Homo sapiens: one gene and its partners. The protein of the gene in region 2 purifies or fractionates together with the protein of the main gene of each other region. This does not show direct contact. Each region holds a gene or a part of one and is shown on either strand. Other genes may lie near its edges.

Region 1 (4,120 bases), on a different chromosome or scaffold from region 2:
CTAGGTGGGGATGAAAGCTGAGAAAGCGAAGAGGTGGTTCAGGGGATCACTCTTTCCTACTTGTTCCTCTCACCTCAAACTCACCTTCTACTGCACAGCAACACTGAGGATCGCCAACCAACCCTGACCATAACCTTGATCTTGCCATGTTCTGTTAGTGGAATGCAACCCAAAATCAATGGTGTTAGGTCATCTCAACAAAATATATATCAAACCATATTCCATAAGAACTGCTCGTGGCCCTGTTCTTTTCAGTATATGGGAAAACAAAATGGAAACAACAAAATAGCATCAGGTTTACAAAACTTCCCAAGATAGATGGTCACACATGTTTTCAGGAGACCTCTATATAAATGACTTTGATCACTTGATACCTTGAAAAGAGGTCTTGGGGCACTAGAATGACATCTATAAGTGACAAGTATAAAATGTAGTGCTCAGTGACATTAAAAAACAAATCAACCCACATAGAGGAAGAGCTTTGGACGTAGGGATGTCAAACTGGTCTAGAATGTAATGAAAACCCAAGAAGGTGCCCCAGTAAGAAAGAAGAAATCAATCTAACAATGGGATGCAGCAGCAAGAATACTGAGACAGGAAAGAAAATATTTTAAAAAAATGAATTATTCATTCACTTTCTAGTGGATACAGAAAAAACTGCAGAAGACCCGGAGGATATCAGGGCAGGCTAAAAGTTTGATATCTTACACCTGTGGAAAAGCCTTAAGCTCTGTTTTAACTGAGAGCAGGTGGGGTGACTTCATGACTACCATTAAGAAAATATAACCTGTTGGGAAACTGTTTCTGCCTTGATGATGTTGTACAGACAAGAGATAAACAGTGAGGAATATGCTTAGATGTATTGGGAAAGACACGGGTCTGTGGCATTGTCACAAGGGTACACGAATACTGAGAGTGAATGCTGAAGGAATGATCCCCATTGGTGGTGACCCTCAGGTGAGAGTAGGGTGCCTGTGTTTCAGCAAAGCCTGGGCAATTGGAATGCAGAGCTCCTAAGATTCCATGACACCCCCACCTTCTAATTCTGTTATTGCAACTGCAGACGGTTACCTGGCACGCTGGCCACATTCTGCCTCACTCTTATCAGAGTCTGAGCTACTGGCAGTGCTTTCAGCTCTGAGTTGAGGCACCTCGAACCTTGTTTTTGTGGTGAAGGATCCTAAAGTGCTGTGGGGAGTGATCACATTTTTCACAACAGTAAGTTAAGAATTTCAGTTACTGACATCCCTCAGTCCTCATTAAACCGATTTGATTTCACCAGTTTTTAACCCATCATATGTTTGGGTTTCTTCTCCCCAGTCCCTGACTCCACCTCTTCTGCCACAAACGTCAGCATGGTGGTATCAGCCGGCCCTTGGTCCAGTGAGAAGGCAGAGATGAACATTCTAGAAATCAACGAGACATTGCGCCCCCAGCTGGCAGAGAAGAAACAGCAGTTCAGAAGCCTCAAAGAGAAATGTTTTCTAACTCAACTGGCCGGCTTCCTGGCCAACCGACAGAAGAAATACAGTAAGATCTATAGGCTCACCATCATGAAAGTGATGAATGATATCCTGTCTTCTCTCTGAGACACTAAATGCTCTCTCCATCAAAAATAATTTCATCCTTCCTGTACTTCTAGGAAAACAGAAATGGGTATTTTAACATTTTGTTAAAGTTGGAAGACAGAGGTGCCAAAGTATTTAGCAACTTTCCATGTTTGCAATCAGATGGGGGTGGAACTAGAGTTAAACTCACAGTTATTGATTTCTAACACAGGCACAGAATGACCTGTTTTCTCCAAGGGGCTCAATCATGTTTTTAAGAATCCTCTCTGTACCATATAAGATCCTGCAGACAAATAACATCTAGTCTGTTGTTCTAAATGTCTAGGACTAGTGAACTTTTATTCAGTTCAAGTTTCTGTTGAGGCCCAACAGGCAAAGCTCTGTTCTAGTGACTCTGAGGGGAACTTGGTGATAGTAGCCAGTACCTGCTCTGAGGGGCTTCAAGGGGAGTCTGCTCCTAATAGAACCTGTGCTATCTATAAGTGACAGCATCAAGAGCAGGGAGTAGGGGCCGTGCAACGTGGCTCACTCCTATAATCTCAGCACTTTGGGAGGCTGAGGCGGGCAGAGCACGAGGTCAGCAGTTTGAGACTAGCCTGGGCAACGTGGAGAAACCCCATCTCCACTAAAAATACAAAAAGTAGATGGGCATCGTGGCGGGCAACTGTAATCACCACTAATCGGGAGGCTGAGGCAGAAGAATCCTTTGAACCCAGCAGGCAGATGTTGCAGTGAGCCAAGATTGCACTATTGCACTCCAGCATGGGTGACGGGGCAAGACTCGTCAAAAAACAAACAAACAAAACGATAAATAAATCAAAAATAAAAATAAAAAGCAGAGAGTACCTTGGTGAGAGTGAAGTCCTGCTTCCTGGTGCACAGGCTCTTGTTCCTAAAGAGGAAAGATCACACCGGAGAATGTGTGGAAGCAGCAGTGCAGTGTGCAAAGCAGGGACCCTCAGCCTGTCTCCTGGGCTCCATCCAAGTTGCTTGTCTTGTCTGTCCCTCAGTTTCCTCATCTGTTCAGAGGGTACTACAATAATACCTACCTCTGTAAATTGCTGCAATGAATTACCTGAGGTATTTCCTGTCAATCTCCTTGAACATTAATTGGCACAGTGTAAACACTATCTATTAGTTCTTCATTCTGATGTTTCTAAATTAACACAAACTAATCTTATGCTGTTTCTAAATTAACACAACTAATCTAAATCTTAATGCTGCCTCTCATACTAATAAAGTATTTGGGCATATTTCCTTCATGGCCTTATTGTCTTATGTCTCACACTTTATGCTTCAGATATGATTCTTAAAACCATATCTGAATATTGATTTAAAAGTGAAATATTTTTAAAGTCCTTGACATATTTGTCCTTGAAATACCCAGTAAAAGGGAAGCCATCAGTCCCATAGTCCTAGGGGCCTTCCCGACTGTACAAGAAATCACTACTTCATGCCCCAGTGCAGTGTTTTAGAGGAGAGGCTGCAAGGCTTGGGAAAGTGGCCCCGCATTCAGAGTCAGACCTCAGGGGCTGTGAGTTCTGACTCCACTTCGTTGTGGTTGAATCATCTTGTCAACTTCCTTGATGTGCCCTTGAGTTTCTCTTTTTTCGTCTTTAAATTTTGGAGGATCAGATGCCAGAAAGTCAGGAGACTGAAGAGTAAAGATGTGGAAATCCCTGTCTAGACCCTGGTACTGGGGAGAGTTTTGTCCTTGGGATGGACCTGGCTCCTGCCCTGTAGGCAGTGACCACAGCAGCATGTCCAGCCTTCCACTGAGGCAGGCGTGTCTGTCTTTTTTCAGAGTATGAAGAGTGTAAAGACCTCATAAAATTTATGCTGAGGAATGAGCGACAGTTCAAGGAGGAGAAGCTTGCAGAGCAGCTGAAGCAAGCTGAGGAGCTCAGGTGAGGGGACCCCATAGGGGGAGGCAGGCGGGTAGGTGTGTAGATCTCTGAAGTACAGCAGCTCGGCGGGGAGAAGTAAGAACGAAGCTGGGCCAGGGGAAGGGCAGAAATTGCCATGGCAGGCTCATGACACACAAATATTTATCAGAGAGCAAGGATAATAATAAGTTCTGTGTTGCAGTTGTTTCTTAGAGCCTTGTTTTCTCTTTTTCAAACAAGTAATTGTTGATGTGAAATTTACATAACACAAAATTCACCAAAGGAGTGGGAACCACCCAGCAGCATTCAGTATAATCAAAATGGTGTGCTATCGCCACCCCACTTACCCTTAGTGAGAATCACCTCCTGACTGACTGCGTCTTCTCATTCTTTCACTCAATCAATGTTGCCTCCTCGACCCTGTCCTTCTTTTCTTCTTTCATCTTTTCAATTCGCCCCATCTGCACCTGGCCTCATTTCTGTACGTGGCTTTGTATCTAGTGGCCGCAAGATGCACTATGTGTATTTTCACATGGAAATGTCCATGGCCAGAGTGAGGAACTGAAAGGATGTCTTTTTGAAACGGAATTAGGAAGACACCTACTTTTGTTTACAGAAGAGAAAGATGAATGGAACATCATCGAGGATCTTGCAGGAGCCCTCTCT
Region 2 (3,500 bases):
TTGAAACCTTGAAAGAACATTCTCTTCCCCACCAAAGATGTATATTTCACAAAAATGGGAGACTATAACAATTAGTAATCTGCTTTGTTTCTTTTAGCAACCTTCATCTATTCTCATGAAAATAAGCACTATAATTTTCTTAACTAATTTCTTTATTGATAAACATTTAGTTTTAAAATTTTTTTCACTATAATTGTGTACAATTCCTCAACCTCACCTCCATCAGTAGGTTCTGTAATTTCTAACTCCAAAAGAAATTCATATTTTGAGCTTGTTATATTTGTTTTAGTGTTTTGGCAATTTGATGTAAAAAATGGCTGTTTCCTTGTTGTAAATTGTAATTCCCTCATGATCAGTGAAGTTGAGCAACTTTTCATATGTTTGACTTATCAGTGCCTCTTCTGTGTGGATCTTTAACAGCTCTTTTCAGATCCTTTGGATCTTTTCCTTTTGAATTGTCTTTTTCCTAACTTGTTGTTTGTTGTTGTTTGCTTTTTCTGGAGACAGGGTCTTGCTCTGTTCCCCCAGACTGGAGTGCAGTGATGTGATCACAGCTCACTGCAACCTCAGCCTCTCCAGCTGAAGCAATCCTCCTACCTCATCCAGTCCAGTAGTAGCTGGGACTAAAGGGGAGTACCACTGCACACAGATAATCTTTTTTTTTTTTTTTTTTTTTTTTTTTGGAAGAGGTGAATCCTTGCTATGTGGCTAGGCTAGGTCCTTGCTATGTTGCCCAGGCTGGTCACGCCTTAGCCTTCCAAAGTGCTGAGATTACAGGTGTTAGCCACTGTATCCAGCCTGTCTTTTTTCCTAAGTTGTAAGAGTACTTTATGTGATAGCAATATTAACATTTCATCCTGTGTAACTGTTTTCTCCCAGCCTCTCACTTTTGATTTTATTGCATTTAGCCATTCAGAAGTGTTTCTTAACTAGTCATTTTTACCCCTGCTTCATGAATTCTAGGTAGGGCTTTTTTTTTTTTTTCTGACTAGGCAGACCTTCCTAACTCAAAGTTATATATATATATCTTCAATACTTACGTTTTTTTAAAGAAGTATATGTTGGCTGAGCTCACGCCTGTAATCCCAGCACTTTGGGAGGCTGAGGTGGGTGGATCACATGAGGTCGGGAGTCGAGACCAGTCTGACCAACATGGAGAAACCCAATCTCTACTAAAAATACCAAATTAGCCAGGCATGGTGGCGCATGCCTGTAATCCCAGATACTCGGGAGGCTGAGGCAGAAGAATCACTTGAACCCAGGAGGCGGAGGTTGCAGTGAGCCGAGATCGCACTATTGCACTCCAGCCTGGGCAACAAGAGCGAAACTCCATCTGAAGACAAAAAAGTGGGGGCGGTATATGTTTAATTATTTTATGTGTTATGTGATGTAAGGTGCAGGTATACCTTTATTCTTAAGAATGATTGGCTGATTTTGTCATACCTTTTATTGAGTAATCCTTCCATTTAATTGAAATCCCACTTGTATTCTATATTAAGTTCTCATAGAGAGTTGGGTCTGTTTCAAGGCTTTGTTCTACTGATTTATTATGCTAGCACATAGTGTTTTAATTATTACAGTAGTGTTATAATAGTCTTATTAATTGGTGGAATAAATTTATGCTGAATTCGATGTTAAAGTTTTTGCAGTTCTTATACAATATATTTTTCCATACGTATTTTAGAATTGTATTAATTTCATATTAGATGATGTTAGGACATTCAGTCTTTCTCTCCAGGAACCTGGTTTGAGTCTCCATTTTTTTTTTTTTTTTTTTTTGTTCTTGTTTTATGACCTCTAGCCAGGTGCGATTTTTTAAAAAGTTTTCTTTACTTACAGCTTATAGTTTTCTTGTTAAATTTTCCTAAATAACTTCAATCAGCAGGAAAAGAAACAGATAACTCCATTAAAAAGTGGGCAAAGGACATGAACAGACACTTCTTTTTTTTTTTTTCTTTTGAGACAAGAGTTTCGCTCTGTCACCCAGGCTAGAGTGCAGTGGCGCCATCTCAGCTCACTGCAAGCTCCTCCTCCCAGGTTCACGCCATTCTCCTGCCTCAGCCTCTCGAGCAGCTGGGACTACAGGCGTCCACCACCACGCCCAGCTAATTTTTTGTATTTTTAGTAGAGACGGGGTTTCACCATGTTAGGCAGGATGGTCTTGATCTCCTGACCTCATGATCCGCCCGCCTCAGCCTCCCAAAAGTGCTGGGATTACAGGCGTGAGCCACCGCCCCTGGTCGTGAACAGACACTTCTTAAAAGACATACAACCAGCCAATAAACATGAAAAAATGCTCACATCACTTACCAGAGAAATGCAAATCAAAACCCACAATGAGATACCATCTCACATCAGAATGTCTATTATTAAAAAGTCAAAAACTAACAGATGTTGTCAAGGTTGTGGAGAAAAGAGAATGCTTATAGACTGTTGGTGGAAATGCAAATTAGGCCCTGTGGAAAGCAGTTTGGCGATTTCTGAAAGAACTAATAATAGAACAACCATTTGACTCAGCACTTCCATTACTGGGTATATACCCAAAGGAAAATAAATTATTCTGCCAAAAAGATACCTGTACTCATATGGTTATCACAGTATCATTCACAATAGCAAATACATGGAATCAACCTATGCGTCCCATCATTGGTGGGTTGAATAAAGAAAATGTTGTACGTATACACCACAGAATACTATGCAGCCATTAAAAAGAATGAAATAATGTTGTTTGCAGCAACATGGATGCAGCTGAAGGCCATTATCCTAAGCAAATTAATGCAGAAACAGAAAACCAAGTACCACATTTTCACTTCAAGTGGGAGCTAAACATTGGCCACACGTGGACATAAACGTGGAAACAGTAGACACTGGGGACTGCTAGAGAGAGGAGGGGAGGCAAGGGCAGAAGAACTTTCTGTTGGGTTCTGTGCTCACTGTTTGGGTCATGGGATCAACAGAAGCCCAGACCTCAGCATCATGCCCTACACCCTTGCCACAAACCTGTACACGTACCCCTTGAATCTAAAATTTTAAAGAAAAAGATAATTTCAGTTTCACATCCTGGCTTATCCTTTAATTGACTGAGTGAAGTTAGAGGACATACTTCAGCTTTACTTCAGTTTCCTTTTCTTTCTTTTTTGTATTGTATTGTGAGGTTTCAATGAGATAGTTTGCCAAGTTTGTAGGACCTAGGCACCCAGAGAATGATGTTGCATTTCCTTCTGCCTTCTTCATTTTTCTTTCAGGTATCAGTTCATGATCTGAGTGGCTTTTAAAATATGTGGAAAAAAATCAGAGACCGCAGGGCCTCAAATAAATGAACATAAGAAAACTGTTCTCAGAAAAAAGTCAACCATCAACTATCCAACTTTCTTCTATTTCTAACTGCATTTTACTTGAACACTGTCTCGAGCAGGGATTTTTCTTCATCTAGTGTCTGTGGGCCACAGTGGACTTTAGGAATTCTATTGAACCACATGATTTTAAAAAGTTTTAAATTA
Region 3 (3,500 bases), on a different chromosome or scaffold from region 2:
GGATTACAGGCGTGAGCCACTAAGCCCGGCCCATTGGTAATTTCTGAATACGGTTTCAGTGAGGCAACAAGACAGAAGCAAAAATGCAATGCTTCAGGGAGGGAGACAGACAGTAAAGAAACAAAATCTGAAAAATCAACAACTAGAGGGAAGTTAGTCATTAAAAGGCAGGAAAGGAAAAAAAACATGCAGAAATGGGCTAGCAGCAAGAATGAGCATCTGGGTTACAAGAAGTTTTCCCCTAATACTTGGGGGAACTGAGATATTCAAAAACAGAAAGAAGTATTCCATAAAGAGGGAAGATGCCAGGATAGAGTTTATAATGCTGGTTTATAAAAAATCTGATTATAAATACCAATGACTTATTTCCAGGATTAAAATAAACACTATTATTTACTCATACTGCTCAAATCTGGACTATCAAAGCTGTAACTGCTGGGGGTGAGATGAAGCCCACGTCCACACCTATCTCTGCTACATGGTCAGGCCTGGTCTCAAGACCAAGGAGACAAGCACTACAGCCCAGAAGCAGCATGAGCCTGGTTGGCCATCTCCAGAACAGCTTGCCAGGAGCACAAAGGCTGTGGCTCTAGCTGTGTGATGGACCACATAATTACAGTCTTATAGACTCCTAGAGCTTTGAAGTCTCATTAGTAACTTCTAAAACATGCCCCGCAGACCACCTTTCCTGAACTGAGGTACAATGTATGTAGTAAAAGAGACTCCAGTGTATATAAACAAACTTACCACAGAAACAAGTGTAGGTATTAGGAACATGTGCAGAAACATTCTGACAGGCAGGGCACCTCCAACCACTCTGGCCATCTGTCAGGAAAAATGGGAGTAGGCCAAATAAATTTTCTTCCAAAAGCTACATGTAATTAAAAAAATTTAAATCTATAGGAAGACACAATATTGAAGTAGTGGTAATAATTTCAATGTTAAGCATATCAGACATTTAAGGAACAAATTCACAATACTGACTGCTTAGCTTGAATACAGCATTTTCCACTAAATATGGGGTTCATTAAAAAAAAAAAAAAAAAAAGGCCAGGTGTGGTGGCTCATGCCTATAATCCCAGCGCTTTGTGAAGCAGAGGTGGGTGGATCACAAGGTCAGGAGATTGAGACCACCCTGGCTAACATGATGAAACATCATCTCTACTAAAAATGCAAAAATTAGCTGGGCGTGGTGGTGCGCGCCTGTAATCCCAGCTACTCAGGAGGCTGAGGCAGAAGAATCACTTGAACCTGGGAGGTGGAGGCTGCAGTGAGCCGAGATCGTGCCACTGCACTCCAGCCTGGGCAACAGAGTGAGACTCCCTCTCAAAAAAAAAACAAAAACAAACAAAAAAAAACCACTAGCTAGGCATGGTGGCTCATGTGTCTAATCCCAGCATTTTAGGAGGCTGATGCAGAATTGCTTGAGCCTGGGAGTTCAAGACAAGACTGGGCAACACAGCAGACCGTCTCAAAAAAAAAAAAAATTAGCTGGATGTGGTGGCATGTGCCTGTAGTCTCAGCTGCTTGGGAGTCTGAGGCAGGAGGATCATTTGAGTCCAGGAATTCAAGGCTGCAGTGAGACATGATCACACCACTGGACTCCAGCCTGGGTAACAGAGTAAGACTCTGTCTCAAAAAAAAAAAAAAAAAAAAAATACAGTTAGATAGAAGGAATAAGATCTAGTGTTTAGTAGCACTATGGCTAACAACAATTTATTATATATTTCAAAATAACTAGAAGAGTAGAAATGGGATGCTCCTAACACAAAGAAATGATAAATATTTGAGGTGTTGGAATCCCCATATGCCAATTACCCTGATTTGATCATTACACATTGTACGCTTGTATCAAAATATCATGTGTACCCCATAAACATGTAAACTATTACGTATGCATAGTAAAAATTTAAAAATGAAAAAAAAATGTTTTTTTGTTTGTTTGAGACAGGGTCTTGCTCTGTCACCCAGGCTGGAGGGCAGTGGTGCAATCTCAGATCACTGCAATCTCCACCTCCTGGATTCAAGCAATTCTTGTGCCTCAGCCTCCCGAGTAGCTGGGATTACAGGTGCCCGCCACCACGCCTGGCTAATTTTTATATCTTTAGTAGAGATGGAGTTTTGCCATGTTGGCCAGGCTAATCTTGAACTTCTGACTTCAGATGATCCGCCTGCCTTGGCCTCCCAAAGCGCTGGGATTACAGGCGTGAGCCATCATGCCTGGCCAAAAATGAGAAGAAGATAAATTAAAAATAGAATTACCATATGATCCTGCAATCACACTTCTGTTTATGTATCCACAGGAAATAAAATCAGTAGGTCAAAGAAAAAATAATAAGTAAAAGCCATCATTTTCAATAAGAGTGACTGATTTTGTCGTATCTTAAAATATATTTTAATATTGTTGTTTAGCTGGTTTATTTAAGATCTATAACTTAATTCTGGTCATATGAAACACATGATCAAGGTAACATACTCTCCCTGCAGAAAAAGTAGTTAAGAGAAATTAAACTGTATTTTTAAAGCTGGGCTTAATAATACTTAAACGTATCAAATAGGGGAGAATAACTACTCAGAAGAGAGAATTAATTGACCTGCTTGAGATGCTGGAGACCTTGCCCATTTCTTTATGCAGTTCAAATGAAACACATGGTAACAGCTCTGACAACTCCACACTGGGGCCGTGACACGAACCAATTCACAGCACACCATGCACTCGTATTTTTCTGTTGTTAGTTGTTCAATTAGAGAACCTGTTTAAAAAACAAAATAACAAAAAAGATTAACTCAAACACAAAAAACCATTCCTCACTTTAATCAACCAAGGATCAGCAAGTCACTCAAGAGAAGAATCCAAACACAGAGATTTTAAGGGATATCTGATTCTGGGTAAGGCAGCTGGCTATTCAGACTGAGGCCAAAAAGGGGCAGGAATTTGCTGAGGAAGAGGATTTAGGAAGGAGACACTCAGGTGGGGATTCCCACAATTAAGGAAACATTCCCAGGAAAACAGCAGAGTAGCCAAATGCCCCTTGTAACATAGCCTGAGGATCCACTGGGCAATACAGGATCTTGCTTTGCATTTTCTATTTTCCAGGATCCTCTAAATCTATCAGATCCATGGATTTAGGTTAGAAAGAGGCTCGTGAAGCTGTAGTGTCAGCTATAAGAAGCCCAAGTCTGGGCAGGTTCCAACAACCCATGAGTGGTGAGATGGCTCTAGCCGTTGCCCTCAAAGTCTTTAGTCATTCACTTAACAAAGATATTCTTGGTGCCTACCATAAGCCCCATGGTGGTGTTACAGTCCCTGGCTCCAGGAGCTCAAAGTCCAGTGACACAGACCAGTGTGTAGTATCAGAATAATCCTCCCAGATCTATTCCTGAATACCTTCACCCACTTCCAGATTTTTTTCCTCAAACACAATTGCAGCAAAGTCTTTCTAGATTTCAATACAGCCAGATACTCTCAAAACTGAGTGTGAGTGTGTGTATATGCTTTT
Region 4 (3,500 bases), on a different chromosome or scaffold from region 2:
AGTTATAAATACTGCCTTTATAATTAAATACAGTGGGATGAAACAATTGAACCACTTTTTAAGTTCTTGGTTGGGGTTGGTTCCTGTGGTGCCCAGTGTAGTGTCCTGCCTGGTTGGACAGTTCCCCTCCCACCGCTCAAGTGGAGGAATCAGTTCCTCGGGTACTAAGCCCTCTCTTCTGCATTTTTTTTTTTTTTTTTTTGAGATGGAGTCTCACTCTGTTGCCCAGGCTGGAGTTTAGTAATGCAATCTCAGCTCAGTGCAACCTTTGCTTCCTGGGTTCAAGCATTTCTCCTGCCTCAGCCTCCTCAGTAGCTCGGATTACAGGTGCGTGTAACCACGCCTGGCTAATTTTTGTATTTTTAGTAGAGACCGAGTTTCACCATGTTAGTCAGGCTGGTCTCGAAGTCCTGACCTCATGATCCGCCCACTTCAGCCTCCCAAAGTGCTGGGATTAGAGGCGTGAGTCACTGTGCCCTGCCTCTTCTGCTTTTATCTCATTACTTTTCCCAAGTAATCTTATCAGCAACTGGGGTTTCATTTAGCAAATATAAGTTGACAACTCCCAATAATAATAAGGGTTCCTGTTTATGAGGTATTTACCATGTGCTAGGCCCTGTGTTTCACAAGCATTAGCCCAGTTAGCAGTCCTAACAATCCTCCCTGCAAGGCAGAAACAGCCCATGGCTCCTCCAAACAGCCCCTTGGATGCCCATGTCATGGGCACCTTAGACTCTGCACTTTCACAACTTAACTTACCTTCCCCACAAATCTGCCTCTGCTTCTCTGTACACTTGTACAAAAAATCACCAGCCATGACCTGGACCTGGACCTGTCCCTCTTATTGACTCTCCACTTCCAGTGAAGTTCCAAGTTCTGGTCTTTGTACTTCCTAAATATCCCTCCCTCCCACCCATACTTCCACCATCCTAGACAAAGCTTCCATTACTTCTGGCCCGGAATCCTATAATAGCTGCCCAACTCATCTCCCTGCATCCAGTCTTACTTCTCTTTAATTTCATTTATTCTAAGGTCATTGCTCTCTCTTTGAGCATCTGGAAAATGGGGATAATGGGGTCTCCCTCATCCTCATAGGTCTGCTTGAGTCAAATAGAACATATGGCTTTCTAAGTGTCAGGTACTTGATAATAAACTGCACAGATGACATGTGAATTGAGAAAATTTCATGCTAGAGACTGCATGTGTAACCACCACCATAAATGCCCAGGTTAGCCCACCACTGTTACAAAAGCCATTACGAAAAAGGGATAAGAGAAAGAATATATAGGTAAAAGGTTTTTAGAATGGAAATACAAGTATACTTAAATTACTCTAAAACTTAGCAGCTTCAAAGTATATACATTTATTATCTCACAGCTTCTGTGGCACAGCTTGGCTGTGTGCCTCTGGCTTGAAGTCCTTCATGACGCTGTAATCAAACTGTCAGGCAGGGCTGCAGTCTCATCTGAAGGCTTGACTGGGGTTGAGGGGATTCGAAGCTCACTCACATAGTTCTTGGCAGGCTTTTGTCCTTGTCATGTAAGCCTCTGCACAGGGCTGCTTCATGACGTGGCAACTGGCTTCCCCTACCATCTCTCACGCGGTAACAGAGAGTTTTCACAATACGAGCCACAATCTTTTAATGACCTAGTCTCAGAGTGCTCCCATCACTGCTGTCATTCATTAGAAGTGAGTTGCTAAATGCAGCCCATATTCAAGGAGATGAATTACATATGGGCAGAGAGCACTGGGGGCCATCCCACAGGCTGCCTACCATGACCAGCCAAGCAGACATCACCCTGGGAGGGAGGTGGGAGGGGCCAAGGAAGGAATGGGCTCTGTCAGCGCCTCCCTCAGGCCTCTCCGCTCATCATAGTCGAACTGACCTTGAGTCACCCGTCCTTCTACTTGCTCACCAGTGGACACTCTAGTTACAGCCTCCTCGTCTCTGCACTCATTCCTGGGGGCTGTTGCATACCTGACTTTTTACAAAATTCTAACATAGATTAGCTTTATAGTAGCTTCTAGCTCTACTGTCAAATGCAAATCCACATCAGAAAATATAATGATAAATAAAATACAAGTACTATCACAAAGTTCTAAAAACTAAAGCAAGTCAACTTGTTTTTAAAACAACTAAATCTCTATTGGAGGATTTTAAAAAAGGGTACACAACTCTGAAAATAATTATTTTGTGATATCATGTATATATTTCCGAGAACTACTTTTATCATAATTCAATTTACTGTTATGAGAAAGTGTTATGGGTTGAATCGTGTCTCCCTCCAAAAGATATGTTGGAGTCCTAAAACCTCGGAATGTGACCTTCCTTGGAGAACGGGTCTTTACAGAGGTAATTAAGTTAAACGAGGTCATGAGGGTTAGCACTAAGCCAATATGACTAGAGACTGTTTAAAAACAAGAAGCTTGGACAAAGAAACACACGCACATAAAACTAGGCTGATGTGAATATAAACATGGAGAAGACAGCCATCTAGAAGCCAAGGAGAGAGGCCTGGAACAGATCCTTCCCTTCCCTCACAGCACTCAGAAGGAACCAGCCCTGCCGACACCTTGATCTTGGACTTCCAGCCTCCAGAATTGTGAGAAAATAAATATCTGCTGTTTAAACTAACCAGGCTGTGACTGTTTGTTACAATAGCCCTGTAAAACTAATACAGAGGGAAGAAAAAAAGAGAGAGTTTCAGACAGAGACAGAAATAAAGAGAGAAGGAAAAAGACTTATTTTAACAGGCTGTGTCTTCATCTAGATGAGTGATTCAAAGGCAAACACATAAGGGCCTACTCTTTATTTTTTTACATTGAGACAGGGTCTTGCTCTGTCACCCAGGCTGAAGTGCAGTGGTGCAATCACAGGTCACTGCAGCCTTGACCTCCCAGGTTCAAACGATACTCCCACCTCACCCTCCCAGGTAGCTGGGACTGTAGGTGCAGGCCACCATGCCTGGCTTATTTTTGTATTTTTTGTAGAGATGGGGTTTCTTCATGTTGCCCAGGCTGGTCTCGAACTCCTGGCCTCAAGTATCCTTCTGCTTCGGCCCCCCAAAGTACTGGGATTACAGGCATGAGCCACTGGCCCTGGCCCAGGCCTACTCTTAAAACCTCATTTAGCACACGTATTAGACACAATGGCTCCACTCCTAGAGGCTGACAGAAATTTCTAAGAGATGTGCAAATAAAACACAATTCCAGTTGAAAAGCAGCAGACTGCCCTCTAAAATCAGAACCTGGCCCTAGTCATGGTGGCCTAAGCCAGGGGCTAGGAGCCCAGCAATCCCTACCTTTTGGTAGTTCTCTTTGGAGCTCAGGGCTGCCTCCATTTGCTTGGCAGAGGTCGGGTAGATGGCCGAGCGGTACTGAGTGCCATGGTCGTTCCCCTGGCGCATACCTAGGAAAGCAGAAAACAGGGAGGGTTACCCGGTCACTAGGCGACAGTGCCAGTCTCAAACTGGGCACAATGCTGAGACATTTTGACACTT

Evidence for each region. Proteins that work in one complex are often made in the same cells at the same time.
Region 1: the proteins of RNF17 (region 2) and NBPF10 purify together in Homo sapiens (affinity purification with mass spectrometry, with the first as the bait; one large-scale study listed by BioGRID). This does not show direct contact.
Region 3: the proteins of RNF17 (region 2) and NFX1 purify together in Homo sapiens (affinity purification with mass spectrometry, with the first as the bait; one large-scale study listed by BioGRID). This does not show direct contact.
Region 4: the proteins of RNF17 (region 2) and MSRA purify together in Homo sapiens (affinity purification with mass spectrometry, with the first as the bait; one large-scale study listed by BioGRID). This does not show direct contact.

Annotation. Positions count from the first base shown.
Region 1 is NC_000001.11:146,142,005-146,146,124, reverse strand, and holds the start of NBPF10 (NBPF family member NBPF10), read left to right. Parts: upstream 1-1,320; 5' UTR 1,321-1,355; coding exon 1,356-1,530; intron 1,531-3,372; coding exon 3,373-3,475; intron 3,476-4,120.
Region 2 is NC_000013.11:24,770,669-24,774,168, forward strand, and holds part of RNF17 (RING finger protein 17), read left to right. Parts: intron 1-3,500. UniProt on the Homo sapiens protein: Seems to be involved in regulation of transcriptional activity of MYC. In vitro, inhibits DNA-binding activity of Mad-MAX heterodimers. Can recruit Mad transcriptional repressors (MXD1, MXD3, MXD4 and MXI1) to the cytoplasm. May be involved in spermiogenesis.
Region 3 is NC_000009.12:33,300,516-33,304,015, reverse strand, and holds part of NFX1 (transcriptional repressor NF-X1), read right to left. Parts: intron 2,754-3,500; coding exon 2,595-2,753; intron 826-2,594; coding exon 748-825; intron 1-747. UniProt on the Homo sapiens protein: Binds to the X-box motif of MHC class II genes and represses their expression. May play an important role in regulating the duration of an inflammatory response by limiting the period in which MHC class II molecules are induced by interferon-gamma.
Region 4 is NC_000008.11:10,319,792-10,323,291, reverse strand, and holds part of MSRA (mitochondrial peptide methionine sulfoxide reductase isoform a precursor), read right to left. Parts: intron 3,410-3,500; coding exon 3,303-3,409; intron 1-3,302. UniProt on the Homo sapiens protein: Has an important function as a repair enzyme for proteins that have been inactivated by oxidation. Catalyzes the reversible oxidation-reduction of methionine sulfoxide in proteins to methionine.